Linked DNA regions of Homo sapiens: regions 1, 3 and 4 are each linked to region 2. Evidence: fine-mapped expression QTL. A gene starts in region 2. Each other region holds a variant in brackets. All regions are shown on one strand. Distances are between the middles of the regions. Region 1 overlaps RAB6B (RAB6B, member RAS oncogene family). Region 2 holds the start of RAB6B (RAB6B, member RAS oncogene family). Region 3 overlaps RAB6B (RAB6B, member RAS oncogene family). Region 4 overlaps RAB6B (RAB6B, member RAS oncogene family).

The links. PIP is the estimated chance that this variant, and not a neighbour inherited with it, causes the effect. A credible set is the group of variants that fine-mapping cannot tell apart.
Region 1: its variant is the best candidate, but not a certain one, in a credible set for the expression of RAB6B in fibroblasts (GTEx, PIP 0.75).
Region 3: its variant is the best candidate, but not a certain one, in a credible set for the expression of RAB6B in skin (TwinsUK, PIP 0.88).
Region 4: its variant is the best candidate, but not a certain one, in a credible set for the expression of RAB6B in whole blood (INTERVAL, PIP 0.85).

The regions. Positions count from the first base shown.
Region 1 is chr3:133,827,668-133,833,110 of GRCh38, reverse strand. It overlaps RAB6B (RAB6B, member RAS oncogene family), which reads left to right. Exons shown (of 8, transcript NM_016577.4): 8 at 4,259-5,443. The coding sequence ends at 4,323. It also overlaps a transcript of SRPRB not described here. Among named protein-coding and RNA genes, the nearest start is that of SRPRB, 25 kb to the right of the region's middle. The variant CACAA/A (reference allele first, on the strand shown) is at 3,152.
Region 2 is chr3:133,893,627-133,899,089 of GRCh38, reverse strand. It overlaps RAB6B (RAB6B, member RAS oncogene family), which reads left to right and starts at 3,208. Exons shown (of 8, transcript NM_016577.4): 1 at 3,208-3,693. The coding sequence starts at 3,624. RefSeq lists a silencer at 3,189-3,238.
Region 3 is chr3:133,863,030-133,868,492 of GRCh38, reverse strand. It overlaps RAB6B (RAB6B, member RAS oncogene family), which reads left to right. Exons shown (of 8, transcript NM_016577.4): 2 at 3,851-3,909. Among named protein-coding and RNA genes, the nearest start is that of RAB6B, 30 kb to the left of the region's middle. The variant G/A (reference allele first, on the strand shown) is at 3,276.
Region 4 is chr3:133,837,293-133,842,554 of GRCh38, reverse strand. It overlaps RAB6B (RAB6B, member RAS oncogene family), which reads left to right. Exons shown (of 8, transcript NM_016577.4): 3 at 892-945; 4 at 1,165-1,270; 5 at 2,938-3,049; 6 at 4,296-4,389. Among named protein-coding and RNA genes, the nearest start is that of SRPRB, 34 kb to the right of the region's middle. RefSeq lists an enhancer at 2,183-2,683. The variant A/GTA (reference allele first, on the strand shown) is at 2,568.

The sequences.
Region 1 (5,443 bases), 66 kb after region 2:
GCAGACAAGGTGCAGGCGATCTCCGCTGTGCCTGCCAGCAAGGGGAAGGGTTGCACTGCCCGCTCTCCATCCCACCAGCTCCCAAGGTGTGGCACACTGGCCGGGGTGAGTGGTGATCGTTTCATTCACATTCTCCCAGAGTCGCGCTGTTGAGGGCTCCAGGCTGGGCCCACAGTCAGGTCAGACTGGGCTGAGTGCAGGGTGACAGTGAGCTCGTCATCGTCCTGGTATGCCTAGCGTTTCATCCAGCTACCACTGACCTTTGGGCCCCTTGGGAGAAAGGATACATGGCAGGTTGCAAACAGACTGCACAGGGTGTTGTGACCTGTGTCCCTTTTTCTAGCTAAGGGGTCCCCTCATCTGGGTAGATGTACCCCCATCCTTTCACTTCTGCCCAGGAGCCAGCTTGCTGGGCCTCTCACGAGGCAGGTGCTAGAGCGGCCACCAGAGGTCCCAGAGGGACCAGGCAGAGGCAGCCGTCATTCTGCTTCTTTCGGGATGGGGTGTTGGCATTTCTGCTTACTCACAGTCCAAATCCAGGTGTTTTGAAGGTGTGTGCTTTGGGGTCATGTTCATAATTGTGTTCCACATTGAGAGCAGCCACACAGAAGCACTGCTTTGTGGCGCTGTATAAACTGTTCACACCTGGCCTCACTTGCTCAGCTCAGGACTTGGTGAATGTGTGGCATGAGGTTTCCGTCTGCTGCTTGCAGGTCTAGATGGGGGGCTGCTGCACCTCTTCTTCACGTTCGAGACAGGAGGACCCCTCAGGGCCGCTCTGGCCAATACTTCTGCCCAGCAGCACCCTCCACTGGTCTGCTCTCAACAAAGTAGGAGCCAAGGGGCCACCAAATGGTAGAGCCATAAGCCCCTTACTGGTTCTACATACACAACCCCCCAACCCCCACTTTCTACCCAAATACAGTATGCGCCCATCACATGGGCCCCAGACTGTTTCTGAACAAGGCTGGCTTACGCAAAGAAAGAGCAGTAGTGTGGGCACTTCATGAAGTGGCTCTAAGCAGGTGAGGACAGTGACGCCGCAAACCAGATAGAGCATGCTCAAGGCCTCCCAGCTCCTTAATTCAGAGCTGGAACCACATCCAAATGACTGGATTCCACAGCCCTGTTGCACTCTCTGATGGGGCTGTGGTGTGCTTTGACATTCCAGATACAGACAGGATTGTGCTGCAGTAGAGTCAGAGGCACTGGGATTGGGGAAGCATATCCAGCAGTAGGGGGTAAGTTTGTAACAGGCTGTCTGGGCCCACCCATCACTTCCAGGAACCAGGGAGAAGGGACATTGGGCACTGAATGTGGCCCGTGATGGGCCACACTTGACCCAGAGGGAAGAGGCGGGTGTGCTCTGGCCATGCCTGCCGGAAAGGCACATATCTAACCTCTTGAGGCTTGTGAGAAACCGTGAGTTTCCCCTTCTGGGACATTATTTAGACATGGGTCCAGTCATTCTTCCCTGTCCTCTCAATCAGCGGGCAGCCCCTGAGCACTGCATTTCAGCAGCATGTGGCGTAACAAGGAAGGAGGTGTCATTAAATGAGAGCCTTTGGGAAGGCTCCTAGCGGAAGAGCTGGGCCTGTGCTCTCCAATTCTGCAGCCACATGTGGGTGTTCCGACTTAAATTAGTTAAAATTCAGTTGAATTAAAAGTTCATTTCCTCACTTGCACTAGCATCCTTGCAAGTGCCCAGTTGCCCATGTTGCTAATGGTGACATCTTGGACAGTGCAGATATAGAATATTTCCATCACTGGAGAAAGTTCTTTGGACAGTGCTGTTCTAGAAGTATCAGTAGAATTGGTTTCCCGGATGTCTGTGCATTGGGACTCTCCAAAGAACTTGTTAAAAACACACATCTGGGGCCCATCCCCACATCTACCAAGGTAGGACCCAGTGAGACGTATTTTTAACAAACATCCCAGAAAATTTTGATGCAATCCATTTGAGAACTATTGCTGTGCAGTGTACAAAAGTATTGTGATCAAATTGCGCATGAGATTGTTTTAGTGGTCGTAGGTGACTTCAATACTGGGCAGAACGTAATGCTGTAACAGTGGCCAACCTTCAAGCTAGACCACTAGTTCTCAACCAGGACTGATAGCCCTTCCCTCCCCTCCCCACAGGGGACATTTGGCAATGTCTTCAGACGTTTTGGCTCACCATAAATTGGGGGAGGGGGAATGGGGTTTAACTGGCATCTCATAGATAGTGGTCAGGGATGCTTCTGAACATCCTCCGTGCACAGGACGCCCTCATAACAAGGAATTGTCTGGCCCAAAATGTCAGTAGTGTTGAGTTTGAGAAGCCCATCCACAAGGGGCTTAGCACAGCCAGGTCAGTGAAAGTAGAAGGCTGGGGTCAAGATAGCCTTGGGTTTGTACCTGGGCACCTCAGCTTCCCAGCTGGAAGGTGGCTCTTTTACTCCCCACTGCACGAGGTCTAATGTGGAAGTGAGGTAGCTCTCAGCAGGAGAGGCCACTAATGCGTGCACCCTGGCCCAAGGAATGAGGACATTTTTACAGGTGGAGATGGGGAGGAAGGCTGGGTGTGGGGGAGGGAGCATCACTTCTAGAAGGAAAGAACAGCATGAACAAAGGAAAGAAGGAAAGCATAGGACGTGTTTAAAGCAGGGAAAATCTGGTTGGTGGAGCCTTGGTGTGTGATTGAGGGAAGGGGATAAGCTAGCGTCAACAGGTGCTTGGGGTGACCCTAAATGGGGAGGCCTTAAATGCCAGAGTGAGAAATCCGTGGACACTTTGTTTCTGTAGCAGAGTGTGACATGATTGTCACCAGAGCTGGCTTTGGGAAGCCACCATGCTGAGAGAGAGCTGGCTGGGCTCAGAGGGGCACTCAGAGAAGACCAGGAGACCTCAAGGAGGCCTGTGCCCAGGCCAGCAATACAGAACAGGACTGCACTGCCGGCATGGGCCATAGAACTGCAGCTGGCAGAGAGAAACAGCAGGGCATTCCTGGCAGTGGGTTTACCAAAAATGATGGGCAGTAGAGAAGCAGGCTGCTTGACTAGGGTAGAGAGAACAAAAGGTGGGCTGCAGTGGGCAGTGGGAAGGAAGGCACTGGCTTAGTATCTATTTACTCATTTATAGGCTGCCATGGTATAAGATACATATACATACA[CACAA/A]GATAAAGTTGTATGTGTATGTGTGTACACACACACATGGGGAAAATAAAGGTAGGAAAAGCAAAGAAAAGTCAGAGATAAAGTCATACTCAAAATGTATGCCATGGCCGCATGGTTGTTAGAGGTGGCCAAAAAGTTGGCTCTGAGCATCCTCACAGCCAAGGCAAGGAAAGAGAATGTGAACTTCAGGAGAAGCATGGCTTTTCATAGTACTTAAAACAAAAGAACCTCTCCTGTTGTCCTCAAATAGGAGCCACAAAAGCATCCTTAGGATGCCAGCAAGAAGTTCCAAAACAGTGTTTCTTATACCACCACACCCCACACACCCCTGTCTTAAGGCAATCCCTGTCCAGGAAGAGCAATTCTGTGAGGTATCAAAGGGCCTGATCCTCAGCTATAATTAGGTCTGGTTTGATGCAAGGCTAAAATCTCACAGTGTTGGTTTTGAGCCCGATGAGGAAGGCAGAGGGCCAGCCTGGCTGTGCATTTGGAACCAGTCCCTGTGGTGGTTCTGATAAGTGCTTCTTTAGCCCACAGCCCCCGGGGGCACCAGTGGAAAGGGCTGGCGAGGGGGCTGTGCTTAGGCCCCATGGATGTGGCTTCTTACAGTAACCATCCTCAGGATCTAAGTGATGTGTTCTGACTAAAGCTTGAAGGGTTTGCTCCTGCTGCCAATTAGGCAAGGCCCACATACCCCTGTGCTTTGAGATGTGAACCCAGCAGGCTCTTCATCTCCATTGCACTTTGAGTGGGGCTGACAGGTAACTGGGCTGAGGCCAGGGCTGGGAGCTGGCATTTGAGCACTGGTCGAGGGAAGGCTTCTGGGAAAGGGACTCCCTGGCCTTGGTATAGATGGTGATCCCACGGCCCAGGCAAGACAGGCTTTGCTTGGGTGGACAGGCGCTGGGGGAAGTGGACGGGTGAAGGGAAGAGGAGGCAAGGTGGAGTTGGTATTGCATCCTTCCTAGCCCAGCCAAACCAAGAGCCAAGTCCCTAGGTGTTTGCAGAGAAACAGAGCAGTAGCCAAAGGGTACAGTGCACAGGGCTAAGTGGGGTGGCAGCTTGTCCAGGAGAGTCATCTTCCTTAGCCCGTCCCCCTGCAGTGATCGACATCAAGCTGGACAAACCCCAGGAGCCCCCGGCCAGCGAGGGCGGCTGCTCCTGCTAATGCAGAGCCGACCTGTGGCTTCCCATGACACTCCTTGCTTGTTGTGTTGCTTCCTATTGGCTAGCTTCCTAAGGGGGGAGGGAACCGAGTTATCAAGATGGGAGGATTTTTCTTTTCTCTCTGTCTTTAGGAGTAGGGTGGGATGGGGAGGGAGGCTGGGCATCAGGGATCACATCACTCTTAACGGCTGTTACTTAAACAACTATTTTTTGGTTTGGTTGTAATATATTGTACTTTATTAAGATTGCCAAAAACTGTTAAAATTTAAAAAAAATTTAAATCATGTGTATACAATTTTTTGCCAGATAAAAATGTAGTCATTTTTATTTGAAAGATGTGCTTTTTGTTTTTGTATATTTGTAAACTTATAGAGAACCTTTTCCACACACCTCCTCCTTCCTGTTCTCTTTGAACCATTCATCACCTCTGCCTTCCTCCTATCCCCAGCCCAATAAATTAAAACAATTAACTGAGCAAATTAATTAGGCTTCAGTCTGGGGCCATCTGGCCCCACTCTCTAGGCCCTACTCCAGTTAAATCAAACATTGGTTGAACACATCAGCCTCTGAAAAGGTAGCTCTGACTCTTGTCTTTCCATGGCCAGAGTGGGTCGTCAACCTCGTGTGGAGCTGAGACCAAGGTCTGTGGGCTCTAGGCAGCCCGGCAGCAGCCCCCAGAGGAACTGCTCCCACCTCTCCTTCTCTTTCCCTGAAAAGCCTTGAAGGGGGTTGAGGGTACAGGCAACCTTGTGTTCTCTGTGCCCTCAGGGACTGGCAGAGCAAGAGGCCATCAGAAGGACGAGGTGCTGTTGGCAATTGCAGCTGCGTGGTGCGTGGTTTATAGACTGGGGTGCCATGTGTACTTCTGAAAATATTTTAACCAGCCCACCCAGCAGTCAGTACACATGCCTGGGCCAAGTCTAAGAAACTCAGTGTGTGATGTTGGGCAGTGTGCCATCCTGAAGCCTTCCTCCTGGATGTCAGGGAAGCTGGACCACCTGGAGTTGATCCTCTGTGATGGGGAGGCGGGGGGGGGGGGGGGTGTTGTCTGCAGAACCACCACCTTGAAAGATCCATGTTCTTAGAGCCTCAGCTGCTAATATTGTTGAGTGCTTTCTGGA
Region 2 (5,463 bases):
ACAGAGGCATCAAGAGACATGTAAAGAATGTTGATGGCAGCATTGTTTGTTAATAGCAGAAACAAAACTGAGTGCATTTTCCAATGTTAATTTCCTGGTTTTACTAAGCAATGTGGTTATGTAAGATGTTATCACTGGGGTAGCTTGGTGCAGGATACATAGTAACTCCCTGCACTGTTTTTTATAACCTCTATGTGAGTATAAAATTATTTAAAATAATTTTAAAAAAGGCCAGGCGTGGTGGCTCACACCTGTAATCCCAGCACTTTGGGAGGCTGATGCAGGCGGATCACGAGGTTAAGAGATTGAGACCATTCTGGTCAACATGGTGAAACCTCGGCTCTACTAAAAATAAAAAAATTAGCTAGACCTGGTGGTGCGTGGCTGTAGTACCAGCTACTCGGGAGGCTGAGGCAGGTGAATTGCTTGAACCTGGGAGGCGGAGGTTACAGTGAGCCGAGATGGCGCCGCTACACTCCAGCCTGGTGACAGACCAAGACTCCATCTCAAAAATAATAACAACAATAATAAAATAAAATAAAATAAAAATTTTAAATGACACATTTTACAGAAAATCATTTAAAAATTGGGGCATAACTAGAATACTAACCAGCAGTGAAAATGAAAGAACTGCTGCTACATGAATTAACAAATGGATCTCAGAAACATGATGTTAAGAAACATGCAAGTCAGGACAGAAAACACAGTTTGATACCTTATATAAGATTCAAAAGATGCAAAACAAAACAAAGTATTGTGAAGGACACATCCAATGTGATAAAACTCAAAGAAAAGCTAAGATTCTGGATTTCCAAGTTGGGGAGGGAGGAAGGAGAAGAAAGCACCTGGGGGCCTGAAAAGTACTATAATATTTGAGCCCTCCAGCTGTGTAGAGGGTAAATGGGCACTCAGAGTGATAGGTTTTCTTTGTAACTTACATATACACAGCACATACTAAATAGGAAGATTTAAAGAATTTTTTTAAATGGAATGCACAGATTCTATGATATGGAAGAAACTCTTTCTAGTGAGGTTGCCAGGCTGAGGTTCAGTGGCCCCATTTTCCACCTGGAGAAAGTCTGTCTGCTTTAGGGCAGGTTAAGGACAAGACTCAAAATCAGGGGAGATAAGCAATGATAGTTGGAGGAGAGAGACTTGGAGCAGAGCAAACTTGGAGTCTCTAAGGCTCTCATTTCCACAGCATGATGACTGCATTCTGAGAGCAATGCCAGTATCTGCTCCAGCGACGTGAGCCCGGTAGTCGGAGCCGGGTTTTTGTCATTTGAACTGGAAGAATTATGACAGAGTCCCCCAAAGTAAGCTGGACCATAGTCAGCCCAGCTGGACCTGGTAAGCATATGGGATGACTTGGAGGCTTAGAGGTGCCCAGAGGGGCCCTGCCCCAGCCCTCCCTCCCCTACTGCCATACCACCTTACATGTGCGGGACCAGATGATCAGAGGAGGTACAGGACCTGCCTAGGCTTACCCAAAAGATGGTGCCTTTTCTGGCACACCTCAGCTGTTTTGTCTTGCCACCGATGATCTCATCAGGTCAGGATGAGAGGGTACAGGGAGACAGCACTAGATGTTAGGAGAAGGTGCAGGTTGGAGGAGTGTTGCATGGCTGGGTACCTTGGCCAGTAGCTCACTGGCCCTTCTTTGGAGGGATCACTTATAGAGACGGGAAGGGCTGTGACTTGGGAGTCTCCTCTCCTTTCAGAGCTTTCTTCAACCCCAAGCTGGATATGGTCTCCTAAGAGAGCAGGAGCCCCAGAGAAGTGGGTGGGTGTCTGGAGGGTTACCCTGAGCCTGGTGCCAGCCACAACGGGGCAGATATTCTAGGTGATGACTTACAATCCCTGGGGTTCCAAACTAAAGGTAATTATGAGAATAGGACAGTTATTTTGATTTGAGTTCTAGATGTTCATTCAAACATTCAACAACTATTTCTTAAACTCTGAGCTATGTCCTTGGGATGCAGTGGTGGAGCTTCAACTACTGCTTTTATGGAACTTGTGGTCAGGTTTCTAACAAGAAATAGGAAAGAGATTCGAGGTGAGCACACCAGGGAGACAGATAGGCTTGCCCAAGCAAGCCCCATAAGTCAAAAAGGGGGTAACAAGTGTCCACGAGAAATCTGGAGGTGAAGGTTGTGTCTCACTCCTCTTTCTCTTTCTATAACACATGCGTGCACACACCATCGTGTTCACCGACATGCAGATTATTATCTCAAATAAATGCTCACTGAACAGCCATAAATGAACAAGACCACGCTGTGGCAGAACAGTAAGGGACAGCTTTGTAAAACCTCAATTAACCAGCATGCCTTAGGCTCGGGCTGTCTTGGGAGTGTTTCTAGCACTTGGCGTCTGCTCTTTGCTCTCACTCACTCACAACTTGGTCTGTGTGCCTCGATGGACCAGGCAAGTAGAGGCCAAGGAGAGGTCGCCCACATGTCCTCAGATAGCTCATTGTCCAGATACACCTAATTGCCAGGGTGGGGAGTGGCATTGTCAGCCTGGCGACCCCGGGATCAAGAAACGCAGGGCACTGTCCTGGAGATAGTGGCACTGGCATTCAGAGCGTCACCGTTCCTTCTCTCCCATGGGGCAGGTTAGGATTTGGCATAAAATGATCCAAATGAGCAGCTGGTTTGAGGTAGGCGCGCCTGATATTGGCAGCTCCTCTCTCGCTGGCCAGGTCTGCGGGGGCACCCACAGACTCCACAAGAGGCCGCCCAAATAAAGGGTCTAGGCCTCGAGAGGGAAGGGCGGGCTAGAAGCCACGGGGGGCAAGAGTCGAGCCCCATCTGCGCCAAGTACGCCAGGTTTCCCTAGGTCTGACCGCCCTGACGGGCCTCGCCACACCCTGGCTCTCCCCCACCTTCGTTCCTTTCCGCCCTGTCGGTCGGACGACTGCGCTGTGCATCGGTGTCTCGCGAGGTGGAGGAAGGGACTGGCATCTAGGTTTAAAAGACCAGAAACAAATGTCCCCTGACAATTTCTGTCATTTTCTGGATTCAAAAGAGGGGTAGAGTGGGGAAGACAGACGCAGCGGGGCAGCGAGACACGGTCCCCCCCGGGGGGCTCTCAGGGGTACGGCGAGGAGGTTCTCTCCTGCCCGGGTGCGGGCTCGGGTGGGCGGGCGCACGCCCCCCAGCCCCGCAGCCCCGCGGGCCCCGCATGACATCAGAGGCTGGGGAGCGCACAGAGCGCAGGCGCCGGCGGAGGAGGCAGGCGGGAGGGGGCCGACTGGCGCGGCTCTGGAGAGCGCTCCTCCGCCCCGCGCGCCGTCCCTGCGCCCCGCTCCGCCCGCGCCTCTCTCCCAGCGCCGCGCCTCGGGCGTAAAGAGCGCGCCCCTCGCACCGCAGCCAGTGCCGACCGCAGCAGCCCAGCCCCAGCCTTCCTCCGCCTCCGCCTCTCTCTCCTCCTCCTCCTCCGCCGCCGGACACGCAGCCGCAGGCCGGGACCGGGACGCAGCTGGGGAGTCAGGGACGCGCGCAGCCAGCCCTTCCCCCTCCGGCTCCCGCACCGCCGGCCGCCTCCCCTCGCCCTCCTACTCTCCCCTCCCTGCTCCTTCGCTTTTTCCTCCTCCTCCTCTCCCGGCCCCGGCTGCCAGCACCATGTCCGCAGGGGGAGATTTTGGGAATCCACTGAGAAAATTCAAGTTGGTGTTCTTGGGGGAGCAGAGCGGTAAGTACCCGGCTTAATCTCTTGGCTTGTCGCCGAGTCGACCCCCGCCGCCCAATCGCCCACCCCATTGGGACCCCCGGCCCAGGCTCGGAAAGGCCCCTCCTTGCCAGGGTAGAGGAGAGGGACAGGGATGGGGAGGTCGGGGCGGGGTCGGGCTGGGGAGGGGCCAAGGGTGAGGACGGAGGAGGCGCTGGAGCCTGGGGTGGAGGTGAGGGTGGGCTCTGGGTGGGGGGCCCGGGGTGTGGGTGCAGGTGCGGCGCTGCAGGGGGCCCGGAGGGCGGCGGCTGGCTCCGCGGCGCTGGCCAGGGCGTGAAGGAACCGGGCTCGCTGGCTAGCTCACACTGCGGCACCGGCTGCGGGCGACCGCGCAGGTGGCTGGGTGCTGGCGGGGGTGGGGAGAGCGACGGGCGCCCCCCTTGGAGAACGAAGCGAAGCTGGGGTCTGGCCGGGCCTCACTCCGCTGCACTGGAGGGGTGTTCCCTGCGGACCCTGCTGGGAACCATGCGAAAGGGCACGTCCAGGGCGTGGGACAAACAGCCACCGGGGAGAAAAGAGCGACACCTGTCTCTGCTCGAAAGAGCGAGTGCAGGCCATGGGGGAACGGGGAGCCTACCTCCCCTGGCTCACGTCCGACTGGGCACAGAAGGTTCTAGACCCGCTGCCCTTCGCCGGCGCTTGTTAGTCTCCTTGCTGCCCAGGGATCTGGGCAATTGCAGTGAGGGCTACCCCAACTCGAGGCGATTTGGGGAATGATACAGGGGCACCTCACACCGAGAGGCTGTGAAGTCTGGCTCTGGGCAGAGAAAGGCCCAGGCGACACGCCCTGCCTAGCTTCCCAGCACTCCTCCAGAGAGCATCGGTGGATTCTTCCCACCCCCACCTCCCAGCTCACCGCCCTTCTTGGGGGAGGGGAGGTCACCCTGGCAGTCGGCCAGAGCTGGGGGAGGGGGAGACTGCTTCTCCGCTGCCCGGCTCCCTCCCCAGGAAAACATCTCTGAAAACCAGGTTAGTCCCTAGAGGCGGGAAGCCCAGATTGAAGGGCAGGGACCCCTCTGCCACCTGTAGGAAGGAGTGGCTTTCAGAGCATCCCTCCAGAGGCCTCTCGCATGGGGCTGCAGGGAGACAAACTGAGCTCTGGTCAGCTCTGCTCTGGGAGAAGGCTGTCCTTGCGGGACAGGACCCCAGCTCTGCCTCTGCAGACCAGTCCTGTTCACCTGGGTTGGTGCCTCTCTGACAAGGGGGCCCAAAAGAAAGGCAGCTGTGGGAGGACTGGGTGGGCCCAGGAACAGTGCTACTGTGCTGTGTGTACATGAGGGTTATGGAGGTCACGTGGCTGGCTCTTGTCTGCTGATACTCATTGCCTAAGATGGATGGTTCAGAGAAGGACGTTAGAAGGTAGTGTCCAGGCCCAGTATGGAGATGGGTTTGGGGGACAGGCTGGGCATTTCAGAAGAAGATCCACTCAGCCAGCCAGCGTTTGCCCTGGATTCTGATTGCCTGTTTTTAATAGATCCCAGTTTCATAGAGCTGACCATACCCTGTGTCTGGAAGGGATTTTGGTGGTATTCACATCCCAGTGCTAGTCTCACCCGGCCTGGAGCCCTGGGAGATAACCTGCAGGGATCAGGCAGCCTGGGGGTTGAATTCTTAGCTGTGTTGTCTTTAGTAAAATTTGAGGCCTCTCTGTGACTCACTTTCTGTCTCTGAAAAATGGTTGCTTGAAGACAATTCTCTTACTTCTTCATGTTTCTTTAGTGCCTCTCAAAGTGC
Region 3 (5,463 bases), 31 kb after region 2:
AGAACAGAGCTGGCAGGAGGACAGCTCCCGCAGAAACTCCGGCAGCTGTTGCGAGGCAGGGGGACACAGGAGGAGCTCCTGGCTCTTCCACCTGCCAGGCTGCAGGCCTGCTGGGATGCCCCATGCTACTGCTCCTCTGAGGCTGAGTGGGAGTGCCTGGTCAGGTGGCTCGGGATGGGTTCTGCCCACCCCTTATGGTTGGGGGACTGAGAAAGTAGCCAGGTAGATGCAGTGTGCAAGTTCTCCATTTGCAGGTTCTAGCACCTTCCACCCCGGGCAGTTGTTGAGGGCAGGTGTGGGCTGAGGAAGGGGTCTTTGCCATTTAGAGGGGAGAGGAGCTTAGCACAGCACAACCCCTTACCCACCTAGCTCCTTTATGTGATACCATGGGCAGAGGCTGGGCAGAAATGGACAAGAGGAGCTCCTTTTAATAAGCTCTGCCTCAGGTCTGCAGACACTTCCCCAGAGACAAAGCATGGAGGACAAGGGTCTCGGATACCACTGCAGGGGTGTAACACACATTACCCTGGCAGAAGTGACGAGGGCATGGGTAGTCTTAGCGGGCTCTGAGGTGGGGAAGAAGGCTTCAGCTCCGAGAAATGAGAAAAATGAGCCTAGAGGAATAGTGTAAAGTCATTGCCTTTTGCAGCAAAGTAAGAATGAGTCCCTCATCCATTTCAAGCCTGAGTTGGGGTGCTGGGCCCCAGATGTTAAAACCCTCACTTTCTGAGCCCTCCTTGTACCCCACAAAGCACTTCCAGGGCACCTCAGTGACCAGTTTCTGACCTTTCAGATTGGATCAAGCCCCTACCAAGTGGGGAAAGGCCCCCAATTCCAGACTTGGCCTGGGACGGGCTGTTCCCTGGAGCGCCACAGCAGTGGCAATAATGACCTGGCAGAATTCTGAACCCAGCATGATCTATCAAGGAGTACCCGGATAAGAACTGAGCACCTGGTCATGCAGCCACATCCCAGCCCCACTCAGCTCTGACCCTGGTGCAGGAGCTGTCACCTTAATGCCCGTTGTGTGAAATGTGGATGACATTAGTGCCACCCAGAGTTGAGGGCTGGGAGGTATGGTACCCAGTGTTGCTGCAAGCTTCAGTGGGCAGGTGCCACGTCTCCTCTGTTTACTGTTCTCATGTCAATTCTGTGCCTGACTCAGCCCCTACTATGTGCCTGGAACATGCTCTGTAAATGCTGGGGTCATGTGTTGCCTATTATGGTGACTGCGGGAATGCATAGAAAATATCAGCTCTGGCCAGGACCCCACACCTAAAAGCTCCTCCTGCACAATTCCCAGTAAAAAACTTTCAGGGGATGTTTTCCTGCCCCCTAGACCTGTGAGCAAGTGCTAATCCACTGCCAGTGGCTGGTGTCTCATGGAGAGGCACCTTGGCATTAGAAGGTGTTGCAGGGATTTCCAAGTTTTCAGCTACTCCATGAAATTTCTGTGCCCTTAGTGGCTTTTTGGGACCCTGCTTTCTCTCCTCTCTGTGCTTGGAGGCCCTGGGGAGAAGAGACTCAGTGTCTTCCCATCCATCTCCCCACCCTGATCCCTGATGCATGCACCTTTCCCTAAGGTGCAAGACGCAGAGCGTCGCTGCCTAGGGAAGTGACCAGCGTGCCCTGGGATGCCTCTCTTCCCAAGGAGGCAGTAACTTTCCACTCCCTTTCAAAAAGGAGGATGCTGTGTTTTCCCCAATGCATCTGCCTCTTGCTAGTTCAGGGTTGCCCCACTTTCCCCTCTGTGGTCCTCAGCCAGGTGCCTGGGGCCTCATGGCCTCAGAGCTGATCCTCCAGGTATGGGAGGCCCCCTACTTCTCACCTTCATGTGAAATTTAAGGGGAGATTTAAAGCAGTCAGAATGCTCTTTATAGCCTCGTTTCTATCAGAAGTTTAGAAAAGGCTGCTTCCAGGTAAAATTAGAAGAGATCTTGGGCACATTTCTGCTCACCCCAGAAATGTTGTTTTAAAAATGGGGCTGTTCTGACACCAGCTGGTACCCTACAATTCACTTCTGGCACTGACCACCCAGAGTTGGCGTGGTGGTCAGCGTTCTCCAACAAGGGCAGAATCCTGACCTGGCAGAATCCTGAACCCAGCATGACCTATCAAGGAGGACCTGGATAGGAACTGAGCACCTGGTCAGGCAGCCACATCCCAGCCCCACTCAGCTCTGACCCTGGGCCAGGAGCTGCCACCTAATTGCCCATTGTGTGAAATGGGGATGACTTGAGTGCCGCCCAGAGTTGAGGGCTGGGGGTGGTGGTGATACATATATTTTTTCCATCTGATATTCTGGAAACTGCCTTACCTTGCTCAGTTACCTGCTGCCTCCTTCCACTTTTAAGCATTTCCCATGTGCCTTGTACTTTTTACCTGATTTAATTCTTACTACAGCCCCCTGAAGTCTTTGATGTTAATATACTCATTTTCAAATGAGGAACTGAGGTCCTGGGATGGTGATAACCTCAAGGTGACACAGCTGAAAAGTACCCCAATAGGATTTCAATCCAGCTAACCAAATCTGGGTTAAAGATGGGGTCTTCTGAATTTAGCCCAAACACAGTCAGTCAGATGCTCCTTCTGGGTAGAAGATCATCTTTCCCATAGCAAATGCTGGCTGCTGGGAGCTGAGTGCACTTGTCTGTTATGTGGTGCACTCTTGAGGCCTCAAAGCTGGTAAAGGGCCTTTGCCAAGGGGTCCTGTTGGCTTGTCCTGCTCCCTCCAGGGAGTGACCAGCCACCCCACCAGGCACAGCTTGTGGATGTACTGCCAGCCTGGGAAATGGGAGGGTGAGGGTACTTTTGTTTTGCCTGCCAGCATTACCTGTCCTCCTGAAGCCTAGTGCAGAAAGGGCTCTGAGCCAGCACAGCTGGGCAGATTCCCCACTGAGCCTCCCAGGGTCATGGCAGAGACATGATAGGACAGTACAGACAGGCATCCGTGCAGGGCCCGTCCTAATGAATGTCCCTTGACTGCCCTCTTCCCCCACCCCAGATGGTTAGAAATGCAGCAGTTGGCATTTCTGTCACTGCCAGGCCCCAGGGGAGCTGCACAGGGTGAGGTCAGAAGCCAAATTCTACAATTTGGGAAATTAGCAGCATTTGTAGGATTCCCAAGAGACGTCCTGTTTTCTCTCAGCTGTTCCAGTTGTTCTCAGTTGGGGTGTCACTGCCCCTACAGGGCATTTGCAGATGTGTGAGTGAGTCTACAGTTGTCACAGTGACTGGGGATCCTCCTGGCATTTACCTAGCGGGGTTCCAGGTAT[G/A]CTAAACATCCTGCAATGAGCTGGACGGTCAGATACACAAAGAATAGTCCTGTCCATGAGAGACATGGGGAAATGACATTTGCCTCCCCGCCCCTGGTTCCTTAGAAAGCCACTGTCCCCACCAATCTTCAGGCTGAATTAACAGGAAATAAAGGGCAGGCTTCCATTCCAGTGTATGACCAACAACAAGGTGTACATGGGCAAGTACGAGAGGAGCCTCCTGTTTTGCACCCACTTACCTTGATTCTTTATAGATGGTTCTTGCATCAGCTGGGTTCTCCTGGGTCAAGGAAGACCTGGATTTGGGTAGTGGAAATCCATGGGGCAGTGGGATACCTCCTCCTTGGCAGCACCCTGGTGCCTGGCAGGAACAGCCCTCAGCCCACCTGGTATAGAGACTCGGTGGCCTCACCACGGGGTCCCTAGCAGGGGCCTGTCTCCCACTTCTGTATTTCTGCAACTCGGCCTTTCCCCTGTGCTTTTTGGTTTTGTTATCTTTTCTTCAAATGCAGTGTGTTTAGAAGAGCCTAGCTCAGATGCCATGACTGAACACCTCTCTCCTTGTTGTTTTGCAGTCGGGAAGACGTCTCTGATTACGAGGTTCATGTACGACAGCTTCGACAACACATACCAGGTGAGGTCCTGGGTGCTCACCCTCCATATCATCTGGCAGTGGCTGACCTCTCTTTGAAACTTGCTGAGCTGGGGTGGGAGTGGAATGGCCCTGGGTTCCCAGGCTGTCATTTTGCTATGGAGGAGCTTCCCACCTCTATACTGGCCCCATCCCTGTAAAGAGCTTGAGCCCTTCTGAAAATCCACCCCTCGGTAAAGGGAACATTTTTCAGAGGAAAATTCTAAAAATAGAGAGAGTCTGTGTTCTCTTGTTCCTCACAGGCAGATCCAAACCATGATAGTGTTTGGTTGTTCAGGGGAGTCATCATGTGGAAGAGGAACAAGATGAAAATGAGAGTGTTAGGCGAACTTGCGCCTCATGCATGGTTGTAATGGTTATGTTTGCTGGGACCTTCTCTCTCTCTCACCCCCGCCCCCCCCCACACACGCACACAAACACACACACGCGCGCACACACACACACACGGTTGCTGAGGCACTTCCTTCCCTGGAGAGGCTGGTGCGATGAGCTTGCCCTGCCCTACATGGGCAGGAGGCTGGATGCGGTGACCTCTGCAGCTCCTGGCCCTGGAGGCGTAGTCTGGGGTCAACCAGAGGCCCAGAGGTGGTTCCAGGTGCCCTGAAGGCCAAGTTCTTGGGGGTTAATAACATGTCACTTTCCTGGCACCACTGGTGAGTAGGGAGGTTTGTGCAAGTAAAGTGAATTTTCCATGCAATTATAGCTTTTTGCAAAAGGCACCAAACTTAATCATTTCAACTCTTTTAAAGAAAAAAGGTGCTGTTTTATTCCTTAGATAGAGACAAATGATAATGCATTTTTCTACACTAGTGGATTCTGTGAGATACTAATTCCAAGAGGTGTTGGTAGGTGTTACTTGAAAAAAAGTTGAGGTAGGGGGTGGTGGGTTCAGAGCTTGTACAGATTTAGGGAACACTGGGTGAACAAAAGTAAATCTACTGCTGTGCTGCAGGGCTTCTCGGAGCCTGACTATATCAGTGTATAGTTTTGATTTACTGAAAGAGGGATATAGTGTGTAGGATCTCTCAGATGTATTTGATCATGGAATCCCTTGGTTATCGAGTTCTCAAAGGACAAATATTTATAGAACACAGCGGGGACTGCTGTTCTAAGACGTCCCTCCTCCTTTCTGGATTTACAGAGTATGTGGAGCACAGCTCACTGCAGACTGCAGCTCTGTATCTACTTTTTAGTCTGTCTGTCTCCCTCTGGACCAATTATCCTCCTTGCCTTAAATACAGCCCCTCTGTCTGCCTCTCTCTCATTTTTACTCTTTCTTTGCTGTGGTCTCAATTTTTACTTTACCTCTGCTTCTACTCTGCTATGGTCTGAAATACTGGCTAGCCAGTGGACTTGGTGAAACTGACCATAGGAATTGACAGAGGCTCTGGGAGAGGGGCCCTGGCTGATGTGCACAGCCTCAGGTGTGGACTGTGGGATGTTCACCTTGGTCACACTTTGTCTTTGTTGTATCCTCTCTGGGCCAGGGCTTTGTAGCACCAAGCCTGTCCTCCTAATGAGGGGAGTTCTACTGGA
Region 4 (5,262 bases), 56 kb after region 2:
GTTCTAATCACATGGATATACCACACTATGCTTATTTAGTGCCGTGGACATTCAGGCTGTGTCCAAGTCTTTGTTATTATTGATTACATAGCAGTGATATCTCCATTTTACATTGACAGCATCTCAGTCCTACTGACAGGTACCGGGTGCCTGTGAGGCCCAGAGAGGTTGGTTGCCTGCCCAAGGCCACACAGCAAGTGAGTGGTGGGTCCTGGCCATCTGGCCACAAGGCTGGCTGCCTCTCACAGGTGCCAGGGCAGAAGAGGCATAGGTGTGGCACAGGGGAGCTGGTGACAGCTTCCAATGTTTTGGCTTGGGGAGAAAAGAGCCAGTGGGGCCTCCCAGCGAGAGGCCACTCTGGGTGGTCTGCAGTGCCCGCACCTGAGAAAAGCCATGCTGCTGTTTGCACCCACACAGCAGCAAGCTGCCTGCTCCTGCCCCCTGCCTCCCACCCTCCCGAGGTCAGTGTTGAGCCCAGGCCCATGCTTTAGGGCAGAGGGAAGAGGCTTTGGAAGCTGCAGGTTAGGCCATGAAGGGAACAAGGCAGGGAGTCCAGGTGGGGAGGGCAGGATATGTGCGTTGAGTGGCCTGAGTGGCCTTGCTCCTGGGGAGGCCTCCTCACCACTGCGCTCTCACTGCTTCTGAAGCACTTGCCCTCTCCAGAGAAGATCTCACCCTATAAAGGCCACCCTCATCTTTCCTCAGCTTGATCCCTCAGTGAGAGAGCCGCTGAGTGGTAGCAGGGAGGGGCAGGGAGGACAGAGCATGGCCACATTAGACCTGACATGAGCGTCCCCTCTTGCTGGTTATGCCACCACCTGTGGTCGCTAGGCTTTTGCCCCTTTGCATGAGACCTTTTGATTTTGACCGTTCTGTGCTTTTCTCTAACAGGCAACCATTGGGATTGACTTCTTGTCAAAAACCATGTACTTGGAGGACCGCACGGTGAGCACCTAATATCAGGACTGGGAGGGGCAGGGAGGGTTCCTTTGGGCTTATCCCCTAGGACCCTTAGCTGGGCACCACTGAGAGCACCTGCCGACACTAGGGGCTGGAGCTGGTGATGCCAGCATTGCAGAGCCCGGCTCTCCCAGTCCCCCGGACCAGGAGGACCTCACTGCCCCACTGACCCCTCTGCCCATGGTCCTGCCCTCCCTGAGACAGGTGCGACTGCAGCTCTGGGACACAGCTGGTCAGGAGAGGTTCCGCAGCCTGATCCCCAGCTACATCCGGGACTCCACGGTGGCTGTGGTGGTGTACGACATCACAAGTGAGTGAGGCTCTGCTCCTAAGGGAGGGTGGCTCATAGGGGGTCCAGGGCCCAGGTGTGACCCTGGCCAGGCCTGTGTGCATGTGTGTGCACACGCATGTGTGTGCACACGCATGTGTGTGCGATTGCTCCCTGAATGCAGAAAGGCAGGGAGCAGTGGTGAGTTGCCTTTGAACACCAACATGGTTTCCACTGCTCCCCACCCTCCTGCAACCGACAGGGGTTTATAGGGCCAGGTTGGTCCTGCTCGGAGTGGAGGCCAGCTTGTGGTGTGAGCAGATGCTCACAAGGTTGGCCCTGCTCCAGCCTCTCTGCACCCTCCCTCTCCCTGGCTGTCAGAAAGCTCCCTAAGGAGCTACTTCTATATGTGTGTCACCATGGGAGAAGACGCTGGTCCCTAGGCCAACCCCGGCCCAGCAGCTGTGGGTGCAGGACTCCCTGGGAAGGTAGGCAAGGGGGTCTGGAAGCGCAGTAGGCTGGTAACCCTTCTCCAGTACTGTGGCTCTTCAGGCCAGGGCAGGTGTTCTTAACAGGACTGCACAGCCTCAAGGGCGCACAGGGCCAGAGGTGGGGGTGGGGGGCCGAGGCAGAGGCCAGACCTGCAAGGCTCTTGTAATGGAACACACCTGATAAGCCCTCAGGGCTGTGGTTACCCTGAAGTGGGCGAATGCCCTAGGTGCTGTCCACAGCCTTAAAAATCACACAAGGAAGCATGCATGTCCCCGCGCTGGTGCATGCCCCCGCCACCCAGCCTGCTGCCCTGGCTCTGCCCACCCCTTCTGTCCACCTCTCTTCTGACCACAGGCCCCCTCCACACCTGAGTGCAGGTGGGAGCTGGGCCCGCAAGGGCCTGGGTTCACATGGCCTGAGGCACATCAGAAGGGATACCAGGCTGTGTGAAACTGAGGCTTCTGAGGACAGCTACCTCCCCTCCCCTTGGGTGTGCAGGCTGCCGAGTGGTGGGTATTGCCTTATAGCTGCTCTGCCCTGCAAGGCCTATCATGGCAGCTGAGGGGGGTCAGGCTGCCCAGAAGTGGCCTTGTCTCTCCTGGATTTTTGAGTGCACCTGGCTCCCCTGACTAGTCCCGGGGCCACCTTTCCCCTCCTCTCATCTGCAGAGCCTGAGGGTTCTCTTCAGAAACCCCTCTGGCCTTCCCCAAACTCTCCTGAGCTCCCATGGTGGGGACACCACTCAGTAGGGCCCTTCCTTCCCTAGAGGCTGCTGTGTCCTCCTCTGCCCACCCTCACTGTTCCCAAACTTGCCAAGTCGCGCGCGCATGTGTGTGTGTGTGTGTGT[A/GTA]TGCACACACACGTGTGACCCAGTTCTCACTCTCCACTCTGAATCCCCAGAGTCAGGTCTCTCAGGTGGGCCCCTAAAGCCACTATTCCATGTGGCAAATCATGACACTGTGATCTTCCAGATGGGGTGATTCCTCTCCCACAAAGGGTGGCTGAACAGTGCAAGTGGCTCCCCAGGGCCGCAGGGCAGGGCCCGGTTCCCTCTGAAAGGCCCTACCCAGCTGATCTGTGTTGACTGAGCTCACACCCCTCCCTGGGTATCTGAGGGCACATGCTCACCCTCCCTCCTGCTCCTGGCTCACACCTCCCCTTCCCATCTCCCACTGGTGGCTGGCCCTGGCTTTCAGTTTATCCTCACTTTCTGCCTCCAGATCTCAACTCCTTCCAACAGACCTCTAAGTGGATCGACGACGTCAGGACAGAGAGGGGCAGTGATGTTATCATCATGCTGGTGGGCAACAAGACGGACCTGGCTGATAAGAGGTAGGTGCAAGGGCACACAGGTGCAGGGTGCCACCCTCCACTCCTCTGTAACTGCTCCTGGACAGGGAGCTCTGGGATGCATGGGTGGTGTGTCTGTGCTTCTGACCATGCATCCGGAAAAGGTCCCTTGAGACACTAGGAGCTTTGAGGACACCTGGTAGACTCTCATCCATGGGTATCTCATCTGTGAAGCCCTGTCTTCCACCACCAGGCAGGGGCGGGGCACTTCTCCGTTTGCTGTCTACACAGAGCACTGTGCACCTGGCTTGACCCAGCAGTGCATGGTCTAAGGCCCTGCCATGGCCACAGCCCTGCCCCAGACACAGCAGTCCTCTAGGCCCCAGCGTGTGCACTGTGAACTGTCTGTGCCTGTGAAGTGTCTGCACCAATGTGCGTGGGGCTGTGAATGCCCTGGGCCCTAGGTGTGAGCATGCAGAGCATTCAGACCACAAACCTATGGCCGTAGCCTGCTTAGCCTGGTTTGTGGCTGCGTCTGGCATGAAGCTTTCTCTGAAGAGGCTCCTCCATGCTGCCCTCCATGCACAGGGAGAACTGAGGTGCCATGTGTGTACATTGTCCACTCATTTTACATGACCCTGACTTGGGCAGATAAAGTGACAGGCCATGGACTCCAGCAAGCAGTGTGGGCTTCCTGCAGCGTCCCTTGACCACCTGAGGAATCATCTGAATTAGAGCCTGCTTTACTAGAGTTCTGTCCTTAAAGTAAGGAAAACTGGGCTCAAATCCCAGTACAAAGGGTACCCAGGCCCTTCATACCCTCACCCACTTCTGCCTGCCCCATCATGGAGCCCTCTCTGCTAAGTAGCTTTGTGGCCCTGGGGGAGACACTTTTAGCATTAGTGTTCTCACAGGGAAAATGCGACTGATAATACCACCCAGAGTGGCACTGCCTGGCTTGAATCTCTTCATAAGCACAGGCTCTGCAGTAGTGACTACTGGGAAAGGCAGGTATGGGGCAGCCCTACCCCAGGGCCTGCTTTGAAGCTGAGAAGACACAAAGGAAGGAGTGGGGGAAGCGGATAGTGTCCTACTGTTCCCTGGTGCCTGCTTTGTGCTAGCGAGACTGTGGTTGGTGCCCGGGAGGGACCCTTGGGATCAGAGCCTGTCTTCAGGACTGACCAAGGGCCCAGTGGGCTCCCTCTGCCCTGCTGGGTGGGTCCCTCCTCATATCTGCCAGGGTCTGCTTCTCTGCTGAGCTGATTTCCCCCCTTCCCCTCATCTCTAGGCAGATAACCATCGAGGAGGGGGAGCAGCGCGCCAAAGAACTGAGCGTCATGTTCATTGAGACCAGTGCGAAGACTGGCTACAACGTGAAGCAGGTGAGGACACACCTGGCACGGGGCCCGGCACGGGGCCCGGCACGGTGTAGCCCTGTGGTCAGCTGCAGGCTCAGAGCTGCCTTGCCCTGAAGGGCTGGTGATGGGATTGGGGCAGCCAACCAGAACACCCATAGATGCGCCCAGGGAGGGGAGAGCTAATTTCCGGAGCTGGTAAAGCCCAAAAGAGGGAGGGACCACTCCGGGCATGGCATCTGGAGAACATAAGTCACCAGCCACCGTAGTAGTTGCCAGTCACGGCCCACGTAGCAGGCCCTAAGAGTGTCCAGCCACCAGCTTCCAGGAGGCTGAGGGAAGCAGTGGTTCCCTAGCCCCTCACCCCACTTTGGATGACAGGTGCAGGAAAATTCAATCTGATCAGCATTTGGGGTTCATGCCTTGCGCTTAGCAAGTGCTCAGGGCTGTGGAGGGCAACTCAGGCCTGGGGGAAAGAGCCTACCATGATGTGGTTGGAACTCACAGGAGGGCGAGGCAGTGGAGTTAGGGCTGAGCCTTGCAGCATGAGGGCCCCTGAGTAGTCCATGGGTGGAATTTAGCAGGTCAGCAGACAGGGCTGGAAAACATTGCACCTTTATCTTCACTAACCACTGACCCGTCCGTAGCACTGAAGGACGTCTGATTTGTCCTTCAATGATGAATGTAGGCAATGACACTCAGTCACATTAGCAGTGCCTATGGCTTTACCACCAATAGAAATCACAGATGCCTTCCCATCACCTCATAGTGTTGCAGGTATCTTGAACTTCACATCTATCAGTGTTTCAGCATCACACTACTTATTAGATCTCTTGCTAGTTCTCGCTGTTCAATGTGTTTCATAAGGAAGCACAAATGTCGATGAAGTTTTATTTCAGT